2 separate regions of the Homo sapiens genome follow, and region 1 is linked to region 2. The links come from fine-mapping of genetic effects on gene expression. Tissue or cell type: whole blood. Region 2 holds a variant in brackets; the other region holds the start of a gene. All regions are shown on one strand. Distances are from middle to middle.

Region 1 (8,169 bases), 34 kb after region 2:
GCCACATTCTCTCTGATACGAGATTCATTCTTATACATGTCTTATTGCCCTAGTGGGTTTAAGCTTCTCAGGAGTAAATACTTACCTGTTTGAAGCTTTTACCTAATAGTCTGAATACAGTATATGTATCATAAATGTTTGTGAATAAAGGTAAAGTAGCATTTGTAAGCCTATGCAATTCTTAGAGTGTGTCCCCAGCTACCAATCACCTCACCAAATTTAAACTTACCATAAGTACATCACCTCCTCCTAAGATCAATGGGATAGATTCAGCCTGGATATCAGTTGGGAGGCTAAAAGAATCATATTTGAAGAATTTTAGTTACTGGGGAAAAAAATCGCCTAAGCAAATTAAGTCACGTTAATTTGCCTAAAAGAAAATTTTACGTGGTAAATACGATCCATCTTATTCCACTAGAAATATGTCAAGGTTAAAAAAAGGAAACTTTCCATAATTTAGAAAATCACAAAAAAAACCTGATTTTCACTTACCCAACTAGACACAAAAATATTTGATAAAATCACTAACAACTGTTTAAATTATAAAACATCCTCTCCCAGGTACATTTAGGCTTTATGTACTTACAGCCAATCCATCTCTTCCACAGCTTGTGCAATCTCAGGCATTACACCCATCTCTGAAAGTAAAAATTAATTTTAAAAACCACATAAACTGAAATGATAAATTGCATTGCTCTCAAAATTACTATTCATAAAACAGGGTAAAGATTTTGAAGGATAGCTCAGTTACATCAAATCTACTGAGCGTGGCACTGTTGAAAGAGCACAAGTTCTGGAGAAAGACCTGAGTTCAAATCTAAGTTCTCACTTATTAGCAAGTGACCTTAGGCAAAGCTATAAATCTGTTTTCTCCACACAAAATGGGGCTGATATTGCCTACCTTGCAGGGCTATATGAAGACCAGAGATAATCATGTAATGCAACTGGAGCATGGTTGTCACCTAATAAACTGTAGCCACTACAGTGCCTGTTTACCTCTCATGACTCGTGAAAAGTCTGCCAAGAATAGACAGGGTTGTTGCATTTAGAGACAATGTGGCAGTTATGTGCCTTGGCTATTCTAGGACCATGTGAATACCCTCAGCAATTGGAAAAAAATGAATAGACAAGTGGCGAGCACCCACATTTATTGGCAGCCATAATCAAAATTCTGAATAACTGAAGAGGGAGGGGTCAGTGGTGAAAACGTGGGCACCTGGAAATGTCAGCTGAAGAACTGCTGAGTTCTTAACTGTATACATATCTCAATAATTCTACTTCAAGGCCCATCCTAAATGAATAGAGATGAGTTGCTCCTAACCGGGTTTTGTCATTTTATCATTTCTCATATGAACTGTAGAGGGTAATTATATATGGAGTAGTTAGTTGGATTACTTAAACTTTCCTTCCAAAAGACAAGTGATTTTTATTTTAAGTCTGTATTTATAAAATATAGCTTTATCATAAAAATATATATTCCTATAAAAAAAAGAACAAGAATCAAACATTCCCAAGCCCCAGAAATAACCAATTCTGAAATTCTGTATTTCTTGCCATTGTGAAAAGGCATAAAGCAAACATACAAACTGAAAATATTCTTCATAAAATTATGTAGCTTTTTCTTTGCATCAGATGAGAAGGATCATCATTTTCAAAGAAGGCTCTCCTAACTCTTTTTCTTTTTTTTCTTTTCTTTTGTTTTTTTTTGAGACAGTCTCACTCTGTCACCCAGGCTGGAGTGTAGGGGCATGATCTCCACTCACTGCAAACTCCGTCTCCCAGATTCAAGCAATTCTCCTGCCTCAGCCTCCCGAGGAGCTGGGGCTACAGGCGCATGCCACCACGCCCGCTAATTTTTTTTCATATTTTTAGTAGAGACGGGGTTTCACTGTGTTAGCCAGGATGGTCTCAATCTCCTGACCTCGTGATCTGCCCACCTTGGACTCCCAAAGTGCTGGGATTACAGGCATAAGCCACTGCACCTGGCGACTTTCCTAGCTCTTAATCTCAGGAAAAAAAAAAGCCACAGATAAACTAATGAAGATCTAAAGTTGAATATCCAGGCAGACCTTCCTAAGAATTAACCTGTATTACAGTCTATGTTCTCTCTCCTAAAATGCAAACTGCTTGAAACAAAGGAGTGGTGTGTTCTTACTGCATACGGAATACTGCAAGCTGAAGCTCTTTGCAAAATTGTTATACAAGAAACAACATATCATTTTCAGTAAATTCCAGACAATCTCTTGTACCATTCTGGTCATGTTCCCTGCAAGTTTTCTTTGAAAGCGGACCTTAAGTATAATACTTTTAACAGTTAAGGAAAAATTAGAAACATTCGTGAAATTCCAGTTTTGTCTTATTTCATATCACAGACTTTTTCCAGTCCTTTACCTCTAACATTCATGAAATTTGTGTATGACTCCCAAAGATGTGAACCTATAAAATGACTACCTAGAACTATCCTACAGACCTTGGCTCTAAAATCGTTTTAGGAGAATGTTGGGAAAAGAAAAACAGCAACAACTCTGAGCAGTTTCCAATTGAATCCTATTAGAAGATGTAACTGAAACAGTCAGAAATCTTACATGACTGTTGCACTTTGGGAAGCCGAGGTGAGCGGATCACCTGAGGTCAGGAGTTCGAGACCAGCCTGGCCAACATGGTGAAACCCCCGTCTCTACTAATAATACAAAAATGAGCAGGGCATGGTGGTAGGCGCCTGTAATCCCAGCTACTCAGGAGGCTGAGGCAGGAGAATTGCTTGAACCTGGGAGGTGGAGGCTGCAGTGAGCCAAGATCACACCATTGCACTCCAGCTGGGGCGACAGAAGGAGACTACATCCCCCCACCCCCCCATTCTCCCCCCCAAAAAAGAAAAAAAATATCTTACATGACTGGAGATATGGAATTCCTAATATTCTTACAGAAGAAAACTAAAAAATATAAAATACTACATCTGAAGTCATCTTAAAAAGTTAATAACATTAAAGGACATTAGGCCTAACGTGATACATTTATATAGCAATAAACGTTACATAAGTGCTACATAAATGTATCACGTTTAGCGCATTTAAGGCTGATTACAGCTTCCTAAAACTGGATGCCTAACAGGAGGATGATAAAGCAAGAGGCGAAAATATCAACTGTAGGGTTCGATAAGCCATATCAAATCATATTTGGAATAAAGGAGGGTAGCAGACGGCAAATAAATATGAATTTTCCAAACTTATGTTGGACTGGTGCGTACGTTAATGAAAATGCTTTCCCTTTAGCTTCAACACTGAACATTAATGTTGATATAACAACGTTTAAGAACAAATAAAGATCAGGTTTATGCCTGGGACGTTTTGGAAGGGCCTGAAAAAACTGGACAGAGGCAGGATCGTCATTTTTCCCCAATGACTCCTCCCCACGCCGTCTCGCCTCTCTGCCTGGCCAAGCCCAGATGAGCCGCGGGCAGAAAAGGGTTCCCAAAGGGTCACTGCCACGTTAAGAGGCAGGAGGCCCAGGCGTCTGGGAGCCGCCAGAGCAACGCCGCCGCCTAGATTTTGCAGCCGAAGGTGCACTGGCAGGAAAGCCAAGTGGAGACTGGTAGAAGGGAAAGGGCAGGGGGAGGGACGTTCCGGCCCGCTCCTGGGAAGAATCGTCCTCCGAACCCGAGCCGCGGCCGCCCCTGATCCCGCAACGCGGGTCCATCAGGGACTGCAGCGGACAGCGCCCTTCTGTCTCCCTGACCCCTGTCCGCTCCCGCCCCTTTAGCTCTCCGCGGGCGGCCCCAGGGCTGAGGCGTGCAACAAGCCGCCCCACCACCCCCAGAGTTTCCACAAACGCACCGGAGAAGGCCGCCATCTTCACCCCGTCCTCCGCGGCTTCGCCTGCTCGCTCCCTCCCTCCCGACTGACACGGCGTGGCAGTGGCGGCGCGCGCTTCCGGCCCCTGGTCTTCGGCGTTCGGAGTCCGGGCAGGGACTCAGCCCCGGGAGAACGGTTCCGATGGAAGGAAAGGCCCGCGCCGGCCCCGCCTTATGCGCCTGCCGCTGAGCGGACCTCTGGGACCTAGGGCTTCTGGACGCCGCCTTCGTTCTGGGCACCATGTGTTCGGAGCACACCACGCGGTATCAGGGTCACAGCTACAGAGAAGGAAGCAGATGTTTGGTGATTAGGGTCATCCAGTGGGCTCAGGCTGACACCACACCGTGCCCTCCCCACTCAGTCCCCCAGCTTTCCAAAGGTGAGCAGGGCCTTGGTGTGTGAATGACCCGGAGAGATGGACTGGATTCATTGCCCTGAGCACCAATGCCAGTGAGTGCCTGGCAGCCAGTAGGTATTTGTTACATTTTTTTTTTAAACTAAGTAATGATTTAGGTCTCCCTCCCTTCACCCATGTTTGATGTCGCTTTTATAATTTCGGGTTTGACTTCCATGCAATTTTAACTCCTTTCTCTTTGCAGAGAGATGGGGAAAGTAAATGAGGAATCCTCCCAACCAGACACTCACTCTGTCAGGAAGGTATTAGAATCTTTAGATGAGGACTCTAAAATTCGGGAAAGTTAAGTCACTTATCTAAAGACACATATCTACCGAATGGCAGCGTGGGATCTGAGCCACATCTGCGCAATGCGAGGGCGCGTGCTGTGCTATCTGTAGCCTGCCCCAGAGTGTCATGGAGAAAAGTGGAACCCTCAGGCAAGATAGAATAGGGTTGCAGCGGCCGGGCGCGGGGGCTCACGCCTGTAATCCCAGCACTTTGGGAGGCCGAGGCAGGCGGATCACGAAGTCAGGAGGTCGAGACCATCCTAGCTAACACGGTGAAACCCCTTCTCTACAAAAAATACACACACACACACACACACACACACACACAGAAGAAGCCGGGTGTGGTGGTGCATGCCTGTAGTCCCAGCTACTCGGGAGGCTGAGGCAGGAGAATCGCTTGAACCCAGGAGGCGAAGGTTGCAGTGAGCCGAGATCGCGCCACTGCACTCCAGCCTGGGTGACCGAGCGAGACTCCGTCTCAAAAAAAAAAAAAAAGAAAAAAGAATAGGGTTGCAGCTACTCCGGAGGCTGAGGCATGAGAATCACATGAACCTGGGAGGCGAAAGCTGCAGTGAGCTGAGATCGTGCCACTACACTCTAGCCTGGGCGACAGAGGGAGAGTCTGTCTCAAAAAAATAAAAAATAAAAAAGATAGAATAGGGTTAGAAGTACAGAGTTGGGAACCATATTCTGAGTTTGGATTCTAGGTCTGCCACTTGCTTGCTGTGTGACCTTGAACAAGTCATGAAGCTTCTTTGGGCTTCAGTTTACTTACCTGTGAAATAGGGATGAACAATAGTACCTTTCTCATATGATAGTTATGAGGATCAAATAAAATACATAAAGCATCTAAAATAGTGCATAGCACATGGTGACAATATAACTAGCTCTGTTATTACTATTACATGTAACAGGATTCACCTGAAGCTCCAAAGGCCCAGGACAATACACTCAGCCCTGCAGCTTTACACTTCCAGGGGGCACTATTCACATTATATTCTCTATTCTTGTTATATTTTGTCTAAATAAGACCCTGAGAGTTATGCAGTGTACCAGTTTTGAATGGATACCAAGTACCCCCACATTCCAAGGAGAGATACAAGACCCATATTATGCAGGACTTGCCAAAGGGAAATCTGAAATCTAATTTTTGTGCCTTTTGCCAATGCCCACCTTTAAAGTGTGAAAAATCGGCTGGGCATGATGGCTCATGTCTATAATCCCAACACCTTGGGAGGCTGAGGCAAGGGGATCACTTGAGCCCAGAAGTTCAAGACCAGCCTGGGCAACATAATGAGACCCCCATCTCCAAAAAAAATTAAAAAATAGTTGGGCATGGTGCACACCTGTAGTCTCAGCTACTTGGGAGGCTGAGGTGGGAGGATCTCTTGAGCCTAGGAGGTGGAGGCTGCAGTGAGCTATGATGGTGTCACTGTACTCCAGCCTGGGTGGCAGAGCAAGACCCTGTCTCAAGGAAGAGATAAAGTATGAAAAAATTAAAGATGCAAATTAAGAGAAAAGATTTCTGTGAAAAGAATGCATTTCAGGGAAATACTCTGAGAACTTTTGATCTGAGAGTTTGGGAAGCGTAAGGACTGCTCTGAGAAGCCGTCCCTAGGAGGACCTGAGGTGGCAGGGCAGAAAAAGAGACAGAGAGAAGGAGAGAGAAGCCTGCTGCAGGAGTTAACTGTGGGGGAATCGTGTGACATTTTTTCCCCAAGGGATAAATAGATCTGTGGAGAGTGGACTGGAAGTTTTCTTCAAAGGGAATGTGCCCAAGAGACTTCCCGGAGGAGCTAAATGATTCAGCACACAGACCCCCCAAAGAACGCAGTGGCATCCTTACCTTCCAAACTGGAGAAGAGATATCTCTTGTCTCATGGGAGTTGCATGTGGAGGATGCCAGCAAGGAGAATCTCCAAGATACCACAAAAAGTTCCCTCTAAGAGAAACAATCAGCCTTGAGCATGTCTAAGCCAGAAAGCACCAGAATCAGATCACCATAAACCCAGCCAGATAAAGGTGTGTACCCACCCGCCACCCCATCCCCTAGACTTTATCCTTCCCAGGAGTCAGAAACAACAGCTAATGGGAGAGGCGAGTACAGAAAAGAGACTGACCCCATCCTCCATCCCACTGCAGGCTTCTGGCGTGGAATAGGCCAAGCAGGAAGAGGAGGAAGCCATGATGTTGGTTGAAGTTGTGAATTTCAATCACGATCCTGGACATGATAGTTTACAGAAACGAGGGTATAATTAGATGAAAGTAACCAGACAACTCTTCATTGTCTCAGAGTGACCAGAAAAGCTCTGGAAGATGCCAGAGACTTCATCTAGGTCAGGGAAAGAAATAACCCATAGAGATGATTTCAAGGTAACAGATAATGTTTTCTGTTTGTGCCTTATCAAGTTCAGCTCACTTAATATACTGCTTTAATAATTATAGATATTTGTATGTATGTGTTGCAGTGCCCTCAGTAATGCAAATTGGGATATGTGAATTGGGGTATGATTGGCTCCTCTCCTTGGCAGGTAGAATAACACCAGGCAGAGAAACAGCAGCCAGGCCCTTCACCAAACCAAAAGATAGAGGATGGGTGCCTTTCAGTCTGGTATTTTGCTGGTCTAGTCTCCCCAAGAATAGGTTGATTTAATGGTTGCCTACTAACTGGGAGATTCCTAGAAACCCTGGCCTGGTCCCAGAAACCAGGACAGACACCACCAGGTGGCACCAAACTGTAGCCAAACTGAGAAGAGATTGGACTGGACCCTAAAAACTCCCAGCGTAGGCTTTTGTTCATCTGTCTCCATTTATACAAATGGACGTGCGACATTTAAGGCGGGTGATGGAAGTCTTCAACAACTGGATTGTGGTGCTGGTTGCACAGCTCTGTGAATCATTGAATTGTACATTAGTGAATTTTATGGTATTTAAATTATACCTTAATAAAGCTGTTTAAAAAATTATAATTAAAAAACACATATGGCTGAGCGTGGTGTCTCATGCCTGTAATCCCAGCACTTTGGGAGACCGAGGTGGGTGGATTACCTGAGGTCAGGAGTTCAAGACCAGCCTGGCCAACATGGTGAAACCCTGTCTCTACTAAAAATACAAAAAATTAGCCGTGCTTGGTGGCGGGCGCCTGTAATCCCAGCTACTTGGGAGGCTGAGGCAGGAGAATCACTTGAACCCAGGAGGCGGAGGTTGAAGTGAGCCGAGATCATGCCACTGCACTCCAGCCTAGGCGACAGAGCAAGACTCTGTCTCAAACACACACACACACACCCCTCAGCCTGGGCTTGCCCCCAGTATTTTTTTTTTAACCTCAGAATAACCCCACATTTTCTGTAATTGGGTAGTTTGGGCCCCACTAATCATGTGATAGGGAAGTTTTACTATGTTATCCATGGGCCCAAGATATTATGCTATGTATTTTCAAGTAAGCTATATTATAATTATATCCCACTGTAGAGCAAATGGTTTTGCAACTACTAAGGCAGACCTGAAAAAAAATGCCTTCAGGTATCTGGGAAAGTGTAGAGAGGATGGGTCCTGGGAAGGCCTCTGTAGATGGACCACCCAAAAGCCATACACAGTTCCTAGGTTAGCTCATTTGTGCTGCTATAGCAAAATA
Region 2 (8,000 bases):
CTCAGATAAAAGTAGGATGAAAAAGTAAATATTGAAGCATACTATGTCAATATTAACATAAAAAAGTTCAAAAGAAAAATAAGTTCAAATCTTTTGTATAAGAGAATAATAAAGCAAATAATGCAAAATGTACAACTACTGAATTTGGCAATGAGTATATGGGAGCTCTTTATGAATACAACTTTTCTATAAATTTGTAATTATATCAAAATAAATCTCCCCTCACCATGAAAGGTCTTCCATGGCACCATGCCAGAAAATGTTTAAATATTTTTTGGTGGAAATGAGTACAATAAAGCTAGTTGGAAAAATTATATTTTGCATTTTTCCTTTCTAAATTTCACCCTATTATTTGTCCATTCAATGAATATAGGAAAAAAGATGACATTAAAAAGTTCATTTGTATTCCATACGCAGCTGAATTAAATTTAAATGGGAAAATCAAACTGCTTTTATTTCCAACATCTAAAATCACAACACACACAATGAATATAATAGAGCCCTACAAAGATTACCTTTTCTTTTTCTGTTGCCACCAGGGAAATTGCCAGACCCATCCTGAAAGATGGTTAAAAGCCTTCTATTAGACTTTATTCCTAAAGCATACAAGCTTAAAAATGGGGGAAAAAAAATTGCAGAAGTACCTTTCAGCTCTTCCTACTCTGCCAATTCGATGTACGTAGTTTTGCTTTTCATCGGGCAGAGTGACATTTATAACTATAAATAAAAACCATTATTAACAATTGCCAGTAGTTTCTAAATTTTTCAAACATATTAGAAGGCTTTACTTTAGATTCCGTAACAATCACACTACAGGCATAAAAAGTTGCTTTTTACCATAAGGAACACCGTGGATATCAATTCCTCTAGCAGCTACATCTGTGCAAATCAAGAATCTTACATCTCCTTTCTAAAGAGAACAGTGAAGAGAGAAAGGAGTTTGTTAGCACATATACTAAACAATAAAAACAAATGCTATCCTTCCACTAAATGAGACCTCTAAAAACTCAAGTGTTACTATCAGATTAGAGGTCGACATACTCCTAATTTACTGGACCAAGTCTTGAAGTTTTATGTCATGATCTGCTGAAACATGACATTTAAGGTGATTAAATCAGAGATTGGGTTCATTTTTGCTTTTCTTTTTCTACTCAAAGATATTAAACTATTGCTAAAACTTGGCTTAATCTTTATAAATATCTTTAGAAATTGAAGAGAAAGACAAAACAGAATACAATGTACAGACATAAGCATTATCTTTACTCTTAAATTCAAATAAACTCAGAATACTAGATATTTTACCTGGAGGCTACATTTTTTGTAACAGACAAAATTCTCAAGGGGAGGAAAATGAGGGTAGGCCCCTGGTGCTCACCAAGAAATACAAATTAGCCTTTCAATGTCATTTGTGCCTCAAGGCACAGCAAAATTAGAGATCTGGGGGAGGGAAGAAGGGTATACTGACTTATGGTCCAGAAAAATGCCTACGGTTGAGAAGGGTAGCACACATTCAAACGAGGCCATGCGATGTGTTTTCACATCTGCATCAATTATGCCCAGCATGGAAACGTAAGCCAAAGTTCTTCAACCCAATACTTCCCATCTTTTTTCTTAGAAAATGATACTTATGCTATACACTGGGGCCTATTAAATTAATGAGACTGCTTGCAGGTAGACAGGTTACCGATCTTTAGTTCTAAATGGCTCAAGCCATTTACTTACCCACCCACTTACACCAAGAGCTATATGACCCGTTCATGTGCTGCAAGCATATAACTGGAAAGGTCTGCCCCAAACAGTATCAAAATACCTTTAATTCTACATAGCCATATTCTGATACCTGTCTTAATTAATCTACAAATTAAGTTCCTTATGGCTATTGCTGGAGACTGTTTTTAAGGCACATAGACATGGCTTAACTATCCAATGATACTTCTCCTAAAAATATCTACCTGAAATAATTTAACTAAAATTTCTGAAATTGAAAATTCCTGTTATAGTAGTGTTATGCTGATAGAGAATGTATAATTTACCATTTGAGTGTCAACAATGACTAATTCCTGTCATGATGATGACACATTAGTTAGGGTAGAAACATTTTGAAATTTCTAGGACAATAATTGCTTTAATAATATTAATTAAAACTGCTTAAAACTAGATATAATGCCCCTCTTAAGTATTAAGGAAACAATCAACTATGTATCAGTACCTTAAATCTTTCCAAGTTTTGCTTTCTCTCATGAGGCTTTCTGTCACCATGAAGACAAACACATGAGAACTGGTGTCCTTTTTTATCAGGTCCTAGTGAAAAGCACATTAAGCATTTAACCTTGGAAAATCTTCTGCCTAAGACTATGTAAAAAAGCCAATAAAATTCAGACTACAATAGTGCCACACAATTCCATAAAAATCTATGCCCCAACTTGCTATAAACCATGGTTAACACAATTTATGTCACAAACGAAGTACCATTAAAATGAACTCTACGGAGCATTAAAGTTGTCCTGCTTTTAAGGGCATTTTAAGTCACCCTTCCCAATCTGTAGGAGGAGTGGATCAAGCAGTGTACCAACTAAAATGCCTATGTGTACACCAGGAACCTCACTATCCTCCATAAAGCTAAGACTCAAAAAGTAGGCAAAAGAGATCATTCTTGGAGGAACCAAAATTAAGCATCATCAAGTTAATGTGCTTCCTAAAAGGCCATGCCCATAAGCCTGCTCTCTTCTCAAGGTATTTTAAGCAACATAGTTATCTAGTTTCATGGCCACAGAAGATTCAAAGCAGCAAACTGTAAAGATGGAGAGGTGTTATTTTAGAGGCAAGTGCAGTGGTAGCCAACCCCCCAAAAGAAAACTCTTCAAGTAGACACAGTAACAAAAAGAGTAACCACTGGGATGTAACAAAATAACAATTATGGCACTTAACTATTCTCCAAGGTAAATTAAGTTCAGTAAGTATACTTGAAAATTCAAGGAAACAATACATTTTGACAGATATCTATTCAAAATGAATAACACAAAAATTAATTATGCAGAGGTGAAATAACAGCTAACCAGAACTTCTAGAGGTATACAGCTGAGATTTTATTGCATCCTGCATTCAAGTGGTTTAGGGAAGTATCAAATACACACTATAACTCTCTGGTTAGGGTATGTGTGGAGGGGAGAGGGATCCTTTGATCCCTTCTTTTAAACCCCTGTAATCTGGTATATATTGTGTTTGAGTGTTAGTAATGGTGTAATAAACTTGTTTTCTAGGCAGAAGTAACATCTACATCCAGAATATTTAGGGAAGGAGCATCAAAGTAACTAAAGGGATATTACTACTTAATCAACAGTACTCCTTACTACATAATCAACTCCTCCATTCAAAACATAGACAGGAAGAAAATTAAGTACTACAAAACAGTCACTATAACAACCAAGCAAGTCTGTTTGCCAGGACTTGAAAAAAAAAATGTGTTACTTAAGCACTCACTGTAATGAACAGTGTAATGTATTCTTTATATGACCATTAGTTCAAATATTCTATATCCTTCTTGAGTTTTCTATTTCCTTGACGTACATCAGTTATAACAAAATGTGTTAGTCTTTCCTCAGTACAATAATGGGATTTGTATGTTACCTTCTATATCTGCCAATTTTTACTTTTTATATTTTTCCAATATTTATATTTTCAAACACGTAGCAACACTGAAATAATTTTAAGGATGAACAGTTGTATATCCACCACCTAGATTCAACAATTAACATTTTATTATACTTGCTTTAACCACATATCTACCTATACCTGTATCCATCCATCAACTCATCTTCATATTTTTGTACATTTCAATGTAAATTGCAGACATCAGTACAGAGTTCGGCATGCATATAATTAACTAGAATTCAATATTTGTTTAGTTTTTTCTTTTGAGGTAAAAGTTGTATTCAAGAAATCTACAAATCTTAAGTAGATTTGCTGAGAAAGTCCCATTAGGATACAGAACATCATTATCACACCAAAAAATACCCTCATATCCTTTCCCAGCCTATCCCTACTGCCACCCTTGTGGGGACTACTACTGTTCTGACATTTTTTCCATCACAGATTAGTTCTGACTTTTTAAAAATGTCATATAAATAGATTGATACAGTGTATATTCTTGAGTAAGAATTCTTTCATTTGGCATAAGGTTTCTGAGATTCATCCATCATTGCTGTGTTTACTCAGCAAGGAAAAGTCTGTTCCTTTTCACTGCTGAGTAGTATTCCACTGTATTTCACACTTTATTTATCCATTCTCCTACTGATGGACACTTAGTGTGTTTTCAGTTTTAGAATATTATAAATAAAGCTGCTATGGCCATTCTAGCATCTTTTTGTCAATATGTGTTTTCATTTATCCTGGGTAAACATCTAGCAGTTTAATTGCTAGGCCATAAGACAGCATTTTTAGCTTTATAAAAGACTGCAAGACCCTTTGCTAAAGTGCTCATACCATTTTATATTCTCACCAACAATCTATTCTCAACAACTGTATGCAGTTGCTCCACAGCCAAAATTCGGTGTTGTATTTTTAGTTTAGCATGTACAACGGTATTATACTGTCATTTTATTTTGCATTTCCATAACAACTGATTGAGAATTTTTCCATGTTGGTTTATGATATAATTTGGCTGGGTCTCCATCCAAATCTCATCTTGAATTGTAGTTCCCATAATCCCCACATGTGGGAGGGACCTGGTAGGAGATAATAGAATCATGTGGGTGGTTATCCTCATGCTGTTCTCGTGATAGTGA[C/T]GGAGTCCTCATGAGATCTGATGGTTTTATAAGGGGCTTTTCCTACTTTGCTTGGCACTTCTCCTTCCTGCTGCCATGTAAAGAAGGACGTGTTTGCTTCCCCAGCTCTGAAGAACTGTGAGTCAATTAAACCTCTTTCCTTTATAAATTACCCAGCCTCAGGCAGTTCTTCATAGCAGCATAAGAACAGACTAATACAGTTTACATTCTCGAAGTTATAAGAAGCATAAAATCTGAACCCTTATACTTCCATTGTAGCTTGGATATTTTATTACATAGTGACTCTTTATTTCTAGTAATATTTGTCTTAAAGTCTACTGCAACTCTTATTAATATAGCTAGACTGGCTTTCTTTTGGTTAATATTTTAGCTGACACATGCATAATATTTTTTCATTCCTTTTCCATCTTTCTATGTCCTCAGATTTTGGGTATGCTCCATGTAAACAGCGTATTGCTAGATTTCATCCAGTCCAACAATCCATGCTTTATAACAGAAGACCGTGTCCACTGATACTTACAGTGTTTACTCATACATTCAGATTTTTCCAACATTGATCTTATTCTATAATTTCTAACCATAATTTTTCTCATTTTATTCCCCTTCCTTTCTTGCTCTTGTTTAGGTTTTTTTTCCTCATTCCCCTTTCCCCATCTACTGGTTTAAAAGACATACATTCTATTATTTCAGTGATCATATTTTAAATTTTAAGACTAATAAATTACTTTATCCTTCTTCCATATAATATAAAACTCTTAGGATGCTGTGATTCAAGTTTACTGTAATGAAAATGTACCTACGTGGAAAATTCTCTCTTGTTTTTCCTAGGGCTTATCATATGGAAAAGTACTGAATAAGCATAGATACTTAAAATATGCCATCAACTGCTTTAAATTCTGTGCATGTGTTCTAGATTGCATCAACATGAGATTAATAATCTATTACAAGAGGATATAAACACAATTTATTTCAAGTGAGAAAAAATTACCTCCTCCTTGTTGTATAAAGTACTGCTCCAAGTTATCACAGTCAATTTTGGTTCTACAGAAGATAATTGCTTGATCCATCTTATGTTCCTTGATTGCCCGGACAGCATACTCCCCTTTCAGGATTTTAATAGCTTCAGACCACATCTCTTGAATATCATAACAACAACAAAAACCAACAGAATTTCAATCTGAACTTGTCATGAATACACATAATTATAGTCACAGACTGACTGCTTAATTTTCCTAAAAAAGAATACTTGTTTTAATAAAAGTATTATATATAGATAAGGACAAGAAGTAAAGATAGAGTAAAACAGTGAGTTAAACCATTCATTCATTTATTTTTGTTTCTGTTAATATTTTTTATGCTACTTTATGGGGTATATAAACACCCATAACCGTACCCCTTATGAGGGAACACACACATACACACGTACAAATTAACAGAAATACATACAGCAAAACTGTTATCTCTCATGAAGAACAAATCATATTCTGCCTTGCATGAACTTCCCTAAATGCTCAATAAATGCTTTATACAATTATTTTAACTCCTTTTAAAAATAATTAATGTACTTTCTAAATCAATCTAAATACCAGAAAGTTCATACTTCACTCTACGCAGTAAAAACCTTAACACAAAACTCTAGTAATTTTTTAGTCACCATCCTCCAACTCTCTATTTTTCAGTGTGAAGCTGTGCTATAATTGTTATTCCTCAACCACTGAATGTAAGACTTTAATTCTGTGACCCAACATATTTCTAAGGTCTCTCTGATCATCTCTAATTGTTAGTCTAAACTAAGCAAAACTTATGCAAGAAAAATATAAGAAGCAATAAAAACTGGAATTTTATAAAATGCATTTGGGATGACAGATTTTCAAACAGTGTCTCTGCTCTTCTCCAACAATAAGGATAACTAAGTATGTGTCTTGTTAATTTAGACCTACATATAAAACTGAGTTCAAATCTTTAATCAAGATTTCAGATAATTCACCATTTTGATATAGTTGAAATTCAACCATGAAGCAAGCAGAGTCCGACCCTCACCAATGAATGATCCACCTGAAACATCTCATGTCAGACATGCAGCCTAATGGGTTTAAGATCCATTCTTCTAGGTTTTCTAAGCACCAACCTTGTATCATGATGTACCTTCCTATATTTTCAAAACACTATTTAACCTGAAACAAAGAGTCTCAGCTCTGCAAAGAAGAATCTTCATTGAGGCGGAATTTAATGTTAGGCTTTTTAAAAATTGATAAATATTTAATGATACAGATTTTCAGTTTAAGAAGATGAAAAAGTTCTGGAGATGGACAGTGGTGATGATTGTACAACAATATGAATGTACTTAATGCCAATGAACTGTACACTAATAGTTAAAATGCTAAGTTTTATGTTATGTATATTCTACCACACACAAAAAAGTCAACAACTATTTCAAAACAATTTCAGTATCTTTTGCAAAGCTATAGCTAAAGAAAGTTTTCTTTCTTATGCAATATTCCTGATATGAGAAACTTACATGATATTTCTTATGGAATTCAGGGTCAATATAAAATAATCTCTCTAGAAAAATTCGCTGTTTTCCTATGATGAGAATTAGATAATCAAAAATATTTGTGGCTGGGTGCAGTGGCTCACGCCTATAATCCCAGCACTTTGTGAAGCCAAGGCGGGTGGATCATTTGAGGTCAGGAGTTCAAGACCAGCCTGGCCCACATGGTGAAACCTCATCTCTACTGAAAACACAAAAATTAGCCAGGTGGTAGTGGCACGTGCCTGTAATCCCAGCTACCCGGGAGGCTGAGGCAGGAGAACTGCTTGAGCCTGGGAGGCAGAGGTTGTGGTGAGCCAAAATCGCACCAGTGCACTCTAGTCTGGGTGACAGAGTGAGACCGTGTCTCAAAAAAACAAAAAAAAAAAAAGTGATTTAGATGCCAGGAGACTAACATCTAAATTCAATGATTAAGGCCAGGCATGGTGGCTCATGCCTGTAATCCCAGAACTTTGGGAGGTCGAGGTGGGAGGATCACCTGAGGTCAGGAGTTTAAGACCAGCCTGGCCAACATGGTGAAACCCCATCTCTACTAAAAATATAAAAAAATTAGCCAGGCATGGTGGCGGGCGATCCCAGCTACTTGGGAGGCTGAGGCAAGAAGAGAACTGCTTGAACCCGGGTGGCCGAGGTTGCCTTGAGCTGAGACTGTGCCATTGCACTCC

Evidence for each region. PIP is the estimated chance that this variant, and not a neighbour inherited with it, causes the effect.
Region 1: DDX1 starts here. The variant in region 2 is fine-mapped to the expression of DDX1 in whole blood (TOPMed, PIP above 0.99). The same link has a PIP of 0.9 or more in aorta, blood mononuclear cells, lung and monocytes.

What each region holds. Positions count from the first base shown.
Region 1 is chr2:15,587,614-15,595,782 of GRCh38, reverse strand. DDX1 (DEAD-box helicase 1) reads right to left here and starts at 3,915. Exons shown (of 26, transcript NM_004939.3): 1 at 3,834-3,915; 2 at 587-638; 3 at 230-293. The coding sequence starts at 3,849. LOC124905975 (a long non-coding RNA gene) reads left to right here and starts at 4,014. Exons shown (of 2, transcript XR_007086224.1): 1 at 4,014-4,323; 2 at 4,451-7,514. RefSeq lists an enhancer at 3,817-3,876.
Region 2 is chr2:15,621,355-15,629,354 of GRCh38, reverse strand. It overlaps DDX1 (DEAD-box helicase 1), which reads right to left. Exons shown (of 26, transcript NM_004939.3): 19 at 5,773-5,919; 20 at 2,210-2,301; 21 at 838-910; 22 at 645-717; 23 at 516-558. Among named protein-coding and RNA genes, the nearest start is that of DDX1, 33 kb to the right of the region's middle. The variant C/T (reference allele first, on the strand shown) is at 4,785.